Linked DNA regions of Homo sapiens: region 1 is linked to region 2. The links come from fine-mapping of genetic effects on gene expression. A gene starts in region 2. The other region holds a variant in brackets. All regions are shown on one strand. Distances are between the middles of the regions. Region 1 holds the start of FXYD6-AS1 (FXYD6 antisense RNA 1). Region 2 holds the start of FXYD6 (FXYD domain containing ion transport regulator 6).

Evidence for each region.
Region 1: its variant is fine-mapped to the expression of FXYD6 in monocytes (BLUEPRINT, PIP 0.95).

The regions. Positions count from the first base shown.
Region 1 is chr11:117,833,497-117,838,861 of GRCh38, reverse strand. All of the region lies in intron 6 of FXYD6-FXYD2 (FXYD6-FXYD2 readthrough), which reads left to right. It overlaps FXYD6 (FXYD domain containing ion transport regulator 6), which reads left to right. Exons shown (of 8, transcript NM_022003.4): 8 at 585-1,881. It overlaps FXYD6-AS1 (FXYD6 antisense RNA 1), which reads right to left and starts at 5,144. Exons shown (of 3, transcript NR_186291.1): 1 at 4,801-5,144; 2 at 2,360-2,593; 3 at 543-1,694. The variant T/A (reference allele first, on the strand shown) is at 2,910.
Region 2 is chr11:117,873,433-117,878,797 of GRCh38, reverse strand. FXYD6 (FXYD domain containing ion transport regulator 6) reads left to right here and starts at 2,140. Exons shown (of 8, transcript NM_022003.4): 1 at 2,140-2,206. FXYD6-FXYD2 (FXYD6-FXYD2 readthrough) reads left to right here and starts at 2,140. Exons shown (of 10, transcript NM_001243598.4): 1 at 2,140-2,206.

The DNA of each region.
Region 1 (5,365 bases), 40 kb after region 2:
GTGCGTAACAATATCGTGTGCCTGTGTAGCATTTAAATTCTTTCCTAAGTGCTTTTGCATCCTCATAGCGGCCCGTGATGGGCAGAGCAGGGCTCATTACTCCCGTCTTCTGGATGGGGCTCTCGAAGGCAAGTGATCACCTAAGTGCGAATGGACGAAGATTCCGATCTAGGAGGCAGGTGCCCTTCCTGGTAGCTTGGTGTTCTGTCTATTTCATCACAGACTGAGAATCTGGGAAGGCTCAGAGGAGGCAGCCTGGAAATGAAATGTCTTTTCATTTTTTTTTTCCCAAACTAGTTCTTTCTCAGAAACCTTTTATCCTAAGGCTCAGGACTGTGAGCAACCACTGGGGAGGTCCTGGGTTTAACAATTTCCTTTCCATGTCTGCCAGGCTCCAGCCCACCTGGGAGAGGCTTCTTCTGAGGTTCACCCCTCCCCTGTGTCTTTGTCTCCTTTCTCTGCGTCTCAGACGAGGCTGTCATACCGGGAATTTCAGTGGGCAGGTGCTCAAGGAAGGGAGAGAAGCAGATAAGGATACCAGAGGCAGCCGAAGTGTTTTTAATTTAAATTATCCTCCTCCTCAGCCTCTGGAACCTGAGGCGGCTGCTTGAACCTTTGGATGCAAATGTCGATGCTTAAGAAAACCGGCCACTTCAGCAACAGCCCTTTCCCCAGGAGAAGCCAAGAACTTGTGTGTCCCCCACCCTATCCCCTCTAACACCATTCCTCCACCTGATGATGCAACTAACACTTGCCTCCCCACTGCAGCCTGCGGTCCTGCCCACCTCCCGTGATGTGTGTGTGTGTGTGTGTGTGTGTGACTGTGTGTGTTTGCTAACTGTGGTCTTTGTGGCTACTTGTTTGTGGATGGTATTGTGTTTGTTAGTGAACTGTGGACTCGCTTTCCCAGGCAGGGGCTGAGCCACATGGCCATCTGCTCCTCCCTGCCCCCGTGGCCCTCCATCACCTTCTGCTCCTAGGAGGCTGCTTGTTGCCCGAGACCAGCCCCCTCCCCTGATTTAGGGATGCGTAGGGTAAGAGCACGGGCAGTGGTCTTCAGTCGTCTTGGGACCTGGGAAGGTTTGCAGCACTTTGTCATCATTCTTCATGGACTCCTTTCACTCCTTTAACAAAAACCTTGCTTCCTTATCCCACCTGATCCCAGTCTGAAGGTCTCTTAGCAACTGGAGATACAAAGCAAGGAGCTGGTGAGCCCAGCGTTGACGTCAGGCAGGCTATGCCCTTCCGTGGTTAATTTCTTCCCAGGGGCTTCCACGAGGAGTCCCCATCTGCCCCGCCCCTTCACAGAGCGCCCGGGGATTCCAGGCCCAGGGCTTCTACTCTGCCCCTGGGGAATGTGTCCCCTGCATATCTTCTCAGCAATAACTCCATGGGCTCTGGGACCCTACCCCTTCCAACCTTCCCTGCTTCTGAGACTTCAATCTACAGCCCAGCTCATCCAGATGCAGACTACAGTCCCTGCAATTGGGTCTCTGGCAGGCAATAGTTGAAGGACTCCTGTTCCGTTGGGGCCAGCACACCGGGATGGATGGAGGGAGAGCAGAGGCCTTTGCTTCTCTGCCTACGTCCCCTTAGATGGGCAGCAGAGGCAACTCCCGCATCCTTTGCTCTGCCTGTCAGTGGTCAGAGCGGTGAGCGAGGTGGGTTGGAGACTCAGCAGGCTCCGTGCAGCCCTTGGGAACAGTGAGAGGTTGAAGGTCATAACGAGAGTGGGAACTCAACCCAGATCCCGCCCCTCCTGTCCTCTGTGTTCCCGCGGAAACCAACCAAACCGTGCGCTGTGACCCATTGCTGTTCTCTGTATCGTGATCTATCCTCAACAACAACAGAAAAAAGGAATAAAATATCCTTTGTTTCCTAGTGGCTCGGAGGTGCTTTCCTTTCTGTGAAAGAACTTGAGTGTTTGTAGGGTCTGTGGAACTTAAAGGGCTAGAGGGAGTCCGTCCATGGTCAGAGGGAAGAGGAAGGACTGGATAGCCACCCAGGCAGGCACAGAGCCCCGTCAGCTGCTGTCACTGTTGCCTCCTCCCCGCTTCTCTTCCCTCCTTTCCTTTTCTTCCTTCACTTTCCTCTCCTCCTGCTCAGCCCTTCGTCCCGCACCTTCCCGCCATTTCTATTCCTCCCTCCCTCTCTCCCGCCTTCCCAGGCCACTGGGCTCAAGCCACATCCCATAGCAGGACCTGTACATTGCACACTGTCTTGGAGCAAAAAAGGGAGTCACAATGGCTTCTCCAAGTACTCAGTGGCCTGGAGTAAAACATCCTAACATTTCTCTTTGGTCAGTTCTGGGGCCACTACCTAAGGACTTGTAAAGAGAGCCAGGGGTGGTGACTCATACCTGTAATTCCAGCAACTTGGGAGCCTAAAGCAGGAGAATTGCTTGAGGCCAGGAGTTCAAGACCAGCTGGGCAACATGGTGAAATCTTAGCTGGGCATGGTGGCTCGCACCTGTTGTCACAGCTACTCGGCAGGCTGAGGCAGGAGGATTGCTTGAACCCTGGAGTTCCAGGTTGCAGTGAACCGTGATTGCACCACTGCACTCCAGCCTGGGCAACAGAATGAGACCTTGTCTCTAAAAAGAAAAAAGGAAGGAAGGGATCAAGGGAGTGACAGGGTGGGTGACGTGGATTGTGAAATACCCCTCCTCTGTGGAGCCTCCCTGGGCATTAGGTAGAATCGAATCCCTTTTTTTTTTTTTTTTTTTTTTTGAGATGGAGTTTTGCTCTTGTCGCCCAGGCTGGAGTGCAGTGGCGTTATCTTGGCCCACTGCAACCTCTGCCTTCTGAGTTCAAGCGATTCTCCTGCCTCAGCCTCCTGAGCAGCTGAGATTACAGGTGCCTTCCACCATACCCGGCTAATTTTTATATTTTTAGTAGAGACGGGATTTC[T/A]TCATGTTGTCCAAGCTGGTCTCGAACTTTTGGCCTCAAGTGATCTGCCTGCCTCAGCCTCCCAAATTGTTGGGATTAGAGGCGTGAGCCACAGCGCCCAGCCGAATCCCTTTCTTGTGCCCCAATCACACTTGTTTGCTGCCTTTATATTCACACTTCATACTTGGCATCCAGACTGTAGAGACCAGGCAGGTAATGCCAATATGTGAATCTGCTGGAGTGACGATGGGGCATGGCACCTGCAGTCACCTACGGTGTCCTCCCAAAGACACTCTGACTCAACTTTCTAAAAACCACTGTTGGCCAAACCAACACAGATGTGGGCAGATTCTGCGTGGAGGTTGCCTGTGTGCAGCTTCTGCCTCTAGTGTTTTGTGTCTTTATTGATACAATTCCTGGAGGGCAAGGACTGTGCCTGCTCTACAGAAGCCTGGAACATCTTAGGGTCTTGAAAAAAGAATCGACCCCTGGAACGTCTTAATATCTTCCATCTTGAAGCCAGCACTTAAGGAGCGGGACCCTCTGGGCCCACCTCCTTCCAGCCCCAACTTCTAAGACCCCAGTGAACCTGGCACCTGAAGCTATAGCAGGAGACAGAAGTCAGTGCTCCTTGTGGTTTCGATGGGCCTGGGAACCACCACCTTCCCTGCCCAGTGGCCACACAGGCCCTGAGTCCGCCTGGATTCCGCAAGTTGTTTAGAACCGAAGAACCGCACAGATCCGCTTGCTCGGTGCCTTCTCTACGTGTGCTCTTGCTTCTGCCTTCGGTCCCCCAGGCCTTTGGAAAGACACAGGCTTATGGTAGAGCTCAAGCTCAACCTGTCAACCCAGTGATCATGGCGATTAAAAACTATCTGGTCACAGCAAGACCTGGTAAATGAGCTTATTGTTCGGGAACACTCGTGATACATCAGGGAATTGACAGGCCTTGCAGAAATTTCATAGCGAGGCCAGGCTGAGATCCCTAGAGGCCCTAGACATGCAAAGCTTTGTGTGTGCCGCCCCCCATACGTTAGTAAAAACAGAACATTATACTTCGACATAGGAATAAGGAAGTCCAATGAGGAGGTTCTAATTTTTCTCATAATAATTATGTTAAGAGTAAGGAATGATGGTCAGCATCTCTAGCACATCATCTACAAATGGTTATCCTTACTTTGCCCGCCTCTAAGCACTCACTTAGTTTTCCTCCTAGTAATCCAGCTATATTCTGAGATTGGTCAGAGATACAATCGTCCTGGTCCAGGTTACACAGCTGGGGGATGGAGGAGCTAGGACTTGACCCCGGGCTGTCTGTCCATAGTGCTTGTCAGCACATGGCCTAGCCTCCTTCAGCAGGCAGATGCTCAGAAGAAGGGACAGTGATCAGATGGCTCCCAAGACTGCACCTGGAGCATGGCTGCCCCTTCAAGACATAAACTAGCTGGACCATGCTCCAAGGAGCCTCCTGTGGGAGTCTAATGGTCTGGAAACAAGACACATGAAGAACAATCGAAGAAATGATGGTCAAAATGGTAATAATTAAAAAAAATGAGCAGCTGAAGTTTATGGAGCACTTACTATGTGCTTGTTTGAGGACTTCACACAGATGAGCTGGATCAGAACTCAGAGTGCTATATATCTCCATGAGGAGGACCAGGAGTGTCCACTCAGCCTCCAGGCATGTGGCACTGGTTTGTAGCTGTGATTTGGTTTAATGAGGCAATGTAGCTTGACTGAATAAGAAGGACAGCTGCCATGCTGTGTCATTTCCCAGAAGGGAATCCCAAGTTCCCTGTCTCAGTAACCTCAGGTGTCCCACACCTTTTGCCTCCCAGTGACTCCCTCCACCCCCCATTCCATTTCGAAGATCTCCATGTCTCTTTGCCTGGAGGTTTTCTGCGTTACTTACCCCTGCTGTAGGAATAGGTCAGTCTGCCTTCTGGGACCCCAGGTGCTGTGGCCCTCCTACCTCTCTGTTTTTTGTTTTTTGTTTTTTTTTTGCAAGATGTAGATTAGAACTTGCCAAATTGTTCTTGGAAGAGAGTCAGAGGCAGAGTACAAGCTGTAGGGAGCGGTGTGAGGGGAGTGCCAGGCGAAGCACACTCCAAGGTCACCGGGCTGTTGGCCCCTTCCTCTGGGAGGAGGGCCTTACCTTGCTTGGAATCATGGGCTTGGCGGGGAGGCTGGGCAAAGCAGGGGTGGGAGAGCACTCCAGCTCTGTCTGGTTCACCCCACCTTGTTCCTGGCTGCTCTGCCTCACCCTGGGCCCAGCGAGAGAAAGGTCAGGTGTGTTTGCCTGAGCCAGGGGAGGAGCTTTGGAAAAACCTGTCTCCAGGCCACAGAGAAGGAATGGCCACCTCTCTCCATTAGTGTGATTTATTGCTGTCACAGCTGAGCTCCAGGGGGGCAGACTCAGCCGGCTCAAGCCAACCAGCTGTTGATCTGATGGGGCCAGCCCAGCCCCGGGCCTGGTT
Region 2 (5,365 bases):
TTTATGAATGCCCACATTTTTCACAGGGGGTAGATGTGTTTATTTTCCTGCTAGAAGGGAGATGTGACTCACCCCAGAACAAGCTTGCGTGCTGCTTTGTAGCTGTAACACCCCAAATTCTTCCAGCAGTACCCTTGGATGGAACGTGATGAAGCACTATTTGAGAGTTAAGCCATGGCGGTTTCTCATGCACATTTAGTTCCTGTTATCCCTCTGCAGCCTGGGCTGGTCAGCATTAGGTAGGGGGACCTGGGAAGTCACTGGGCCAAACACTTCAGAACTCTCTGGCTGGAAATGGGGTTGAACCAGAAGGTGGCTTGGCTTTGGAGTTCTGAACTATCCTTTCCCAAATAGGCTTGCAAAGCCTGGGCTTGACGTGTCATCACTAGTAGGTGCTCTAAAAAGCACAGAGAGATGGCCAAAAGGCAGGATTCAAGGGCATTTGGAGGGATGAATGTACCTGCCTAAGGACATGGGCCTAGAAAGGGATGTGGTTTTAAATCTGCCACCTAGAATACATGAAAAGGGAAAACGACAGTTGGAATGCTGTCCTCAGTTTATAGAGGAAAAGACAGGAACGGCAAAGGGTTAGGCACGCAAATAGGCAAGATTTGAGTCTGGCTTTGGAGAAGGAGCTTTAGCATTCACAGGAACCCCAGGGAGTTCAGGACTGGGCCAGAGTGGCATCCATTCAGCCAGGTCCCATGATTAAGGGGCCAGAACTATCCCCTGAGGGGAGGCTTTTTGGGTGCTCTTTCTCAGTAGCTATTTATGGTTCCCCTACTGGTTCCAAAGTCTTCTTGAGTTCATGTATATTTCCTGCCTTGGGGTTTTGAGACCTGACCTTTTATTAAAATAATTAGATCATCTAGGGCAGAGCTGGAAGAGACCTCAGGATCATCTAGTCCATCTCCCTATTTTCCCAAATGAGAAAACAGGCCCAGAACTGAGGGCAGCAGAGGCAGGGCTAGGTTTCTTCCTAGCAGTACCCATCATCCCCGGCTTGGGGTTTGTAAGGAACTCTCCGTGGCCCTACCTAGGCTTGGACAATCACAGCCTTTCTCAGTAGCTCCTCCCTCCACCCGGCTCGGCCATACACACACCTTGACTGAGGCTGGACAGCCTCCATCTCAGCATGGCTCCTGGCTACTGACACTTGTGCCTGGCCTCTGCCCCTTCCTACAAGCTCTGCCCCTAATAGTAAGAGCCAATTTCTTGAGCACTCACTATGAGCTAAGCCTCCCATGGGGTCAGTCTCTAATCACCATTTTCCCACGTGAGGAAATAGACTCAGGAGCTGAGTGCAGAGATATGCTCCAAGTCGCGTCACAGGCAGGGTTGCCGAGCCAGGATTTATTTACATCTTCACATTCAAAGTTCGTCATCATGAATTTTGACTCTTGGGGACTGGGCTGAGGACGGGGTGGTACTGCTCCTGGCAGGGCCAGAGGTGGATGGGGCTTGAAAAGGGGGTTCAAGGCAGCAGATCTATGGTTCAGGTAAGGACCATCCCCCCAGCTCCCCACCTGGCTCTAGCTGAAAATGACAACTACAACTGGAGCTGGCTCCTGCGCCCACGACACAGCCATTCATGCTTTTGGTGCACATTCCCCTTAATTACCAAGGCTCCCAATTAACGTGGGCTGCTGTGTCTGGTGCTGGGTTATTTTCTCCTATTTTTCCGTTCCTCGGGGTTTACTATTGCAGAGAGACACCAGGTCTGTCATTGTGCCTGTCTTGCTCCCTTCCCACCCTAACCAGAGGGAAACCGAAAAGCAACAGCTGATGGCAAATCCGCTCCGGCGCTTGCACGCCTCCTCGGCGGCAGTCTCCTGTTGCTTCTCGGAGCTTGACTGCCCTTTGGAAAAATCTCTCCGCCCCTCGAGAGGAGAGAGGAGCAGAGGACGCGCGCGAGCACAGAGCGGGAGGACGGACAGGGAGAGGAGGAGAGGGGGTCTGCGCGCGGCCGCTACCCAGAAGCCAGCGGACGGCAGCACGGAGTGGGCTGTCCCCGAGCCCAGCCCCGAGCGAGCCCCCCCCCCGCCCCCGCAGGACGCGCCTCCCAGCCAGCCCGACTCCTAGGAGGAGGGGAGGCGGGAAAGCAGCTCAAGCCTCACCCACCGCCCTGCCCCCAGCCCCGCCACTCCCAGGCTCCTCGGGACTCGGCGGGTCCTCCTGGGAGTCTCGGAGGGGACCGGCTGTGCAGGTAGGCGGCTGGGGAGGTGGGCAAAGTTGGCTCCTTTTTCCGAGGAGGGGCGAGGCTCGGTGGGGACCGATCTCTGGAGCGCCGGGAGCGCCGGGTTTTGTGTGTTCAGTGGGTGTGTGCGGTCCTCCGCGGTCAGCTGCGCCGCGGTCCCCGCCTGGGCAGCGGGAAACCGGGCTGGGGATGTAAACAAGGAGATCGGCGTCGGAAGAGAGAGGAGCCTCTAGGGGAGGCAGGCTGTGGCGCTGGGGGTGACGCTGGTGGCTGGGAATTGCTCTCGGTGCTGCCTTGAGCTTGGGGTCAGGGTTTTCAGGAGAAGGGGAAAGGGCTGCGCCCACCCTTTATCCATGAGGAGTTTTCCCTTTGTTACTTGGAAGCTGTGGACACTTGGTGGAGCGTGGGGAATTACGGACGAGGGCGTGTGGCTGGGTGTGAGTGTGGACTTATGAGCGACACAAAATGGAACTTGCTGGTTTGGTGCTTGGGGAAGGTGGGGCTGGGCAGTGGGCACAGGATGGGGGCGCAGGGAAAGAAGGATTCTAGCGCTCGGGGATTCATGAGAGTGCATCATTTTTTCCCTCCTTCTTGTCTTATCCATCCAATCCTGTTTCCTTTCCGGGGGGCCCTGGGGTCCGCCATTGCCCCCTTTCCCCAGCAGGGCTGGCCCTGGCAGAGCCTCCCCTATTGTGTCTCCCGGGCTTCCGTGGAGAGTTGGGTGTGCAGCCTGGAGCTCCCAGCGCTGGCTTCTGGCTCTTACAAGTGGTGGCTGGTAGAGGAGGCACCCGAGGGTGGGAGCTGGGAGCAGCCTCGCTGGAAACATGGGTCTGCCGCGTCACCTGCTGCAAGCCTGCACGCTCGCGGGACCGTGGCTACTGGAGGCTTCTCCCCACCAGTGTGCTCTCTGCCACTACTTCCTTTGTCTCTGTGGCTTCGTGCTGTCTGGCTGGGCTAAGATTTCCAGCTTTGAAGATGGATCAGTGGGCATCTCAGGCCCTCTCTGAAAGGAGCCCCCTTTGGGGATCCAGCCACCCTCATATTATGGATGTGTATGTCTACGTCCGCAACTTAGCCTTTTGCACGTGACTTGCCTGGTCGTTGCCATGGAAACTCCTCCATTTCTCAGCCTCCCTCTTTCTCCTGCCCATTCCTCACCTCCATATCTCCTCCCCTCCCCCCAGTATGGTTGCCTAGATACTGGTTATCCCTGGCTAGGAGACCTAGATATCTGGCTCCTACACCCAATTGCAGTGGCCCCTTACTCACACCACCCACTTCACACACACTGCACATCACCAACACCACAAACACATACAGACATATACCACACTACGCAATCAACACACCCTCACACTCACACCACACATACATATACATCATACCTATACACACATACACACCAAACACACCGCATATATACCGCACCACCACACACCAGCTACAATGCTACACTGACACCCTACATGCGCACTGTGCATGCACACACACACACACAGTACATCTAAATAAGTCTCAGGCTGGGCTGAGGCAGGGGAGAGAGAGGGCAGTTTCCTTCCTTATCCAGCCACCTCCCTAGGGGTGTGGAGGGGAAGAGATGGAGGCTCAGGAAGCCCAGAAGGAAAACCCTAACATCTCCCTGGGAACCCTGCAGAGGAAGGTGGAGGGAAAGGCACTGCCAGATTCCCTCAAAAGAGGAGCCCCTTCCCTAAACCTGGAAGGGAAGGTTGGATAAAGAGTGGGCGCAGCCCTTTTCCCTCCTCCTCAAAGCCCCAGTCCGGAGCTCCAGGTGTTAACGAGAGCCATTCCCAGGTGCTGGGCTCCAGAAGCTGGGCACTGACCAGAATTTCAATCTCTCCACTGCCGCTGCTCTTTTCCCTGACCCAGAGAAAGCCTGAGGCTCTGGGAGTCATCCTCACCAGCAGAGGATCAGGCCAGCTCTGGGACCATCGGAGGCTCTGAGCCCTAACAAAGGAGAGAAGGAAAAGTGGTTACTGTCCCAGGAAAGCCAAGGAGGCCAGGCCAGGGAGGCAGGAAGGGGAGGGAAACCAGAAAGAGGGAAGGAGAGGGGCCACAGGAGTCAAGAAAGCGAAAGTTAGGGCTACCCGCCGTTGCCTGGGGTTCAGGCCACCCTCTCTTCCTGGCACGTTTTCCTGCTTCCCCCCTGGCTCCTCCAAACAGATCTGTGCATCTAGGAGAGGAAGCGGGTGTGCAAAGGGCTCTAGGCTTGCCAGGGTTCTCCCAAGACGTGTGGCTTCTATGGTTGACAGACGGTAGGCGCCTGGGGGAAGCGTTTCCTTCCTGGCTTCCATCGGATCTTCAGACTGACCTGAGGACCGATTTCATTCAATCATTCAAAGAACTGTTTTAAGTGTCTACTGTGTATTAATTGCTGGGGACATGAAGGTGAGGAGGGAGACACAATCCCTGACATCGGAATCCTAGGTTTCTCAGAGCCGGAAGAGGCCTTGAGGGAGCATCCAGTGGGAACACAGTGGGGGAAACTGAGGCTCAGCAGTCACGTGGCCAGTAGTCGCTGAGGCCTTCTAACTCCTCGGCCAGGATTTTGGCCTTCACACTGCCTGTCCTGCAACCCTTGCTTTCTTTTCTCAGTCACCATCAGAGATGGTGGGTTGATGGAAACCTATGGAGGGAGAGCCTTTGGTCGGCTGGTGACTGGGACGCCCTTCCAAAGTGAGGGTCCCTTAGTGGGCGGGTACAACCGAGGAGCCTGCTTCACTATGTTTTCTTGGAAGGCGAGGCTGGAAGCTGTGGCAAGGAGATGGGGGAGAAAGGGCAGTTTCCTAGACCCTGGAAATTTCCCGACAGCCTCGGGGGAGTCCACCCACCGAAATCTCCCCTAAATAAGAGCACCTCCTCTCTTCCTCCCAACCTTGTTGGACTTAGTCGGCCGCCATCTGGATGGCAGACTGTGCCAGGCAGCCCCCCAATATTCACCTTCGAACAAATCACCTTCTGAGCACCCTAAGGGAAGCAAACCAGTCAAGAAAGGCACAGCCCCAAGGAGGCAGGGAGCCTGCTGTGGAAAGGCCGGGTTCTAGCCCCAGCTCTCCCCCTGAGCTTCCGTGCTACCGAAAGGCAAATGCGTTCATTGCACAAATATCCCTTTGGATGCAAACTGGGCTTCTGGTGAAATCCAGAAATGGC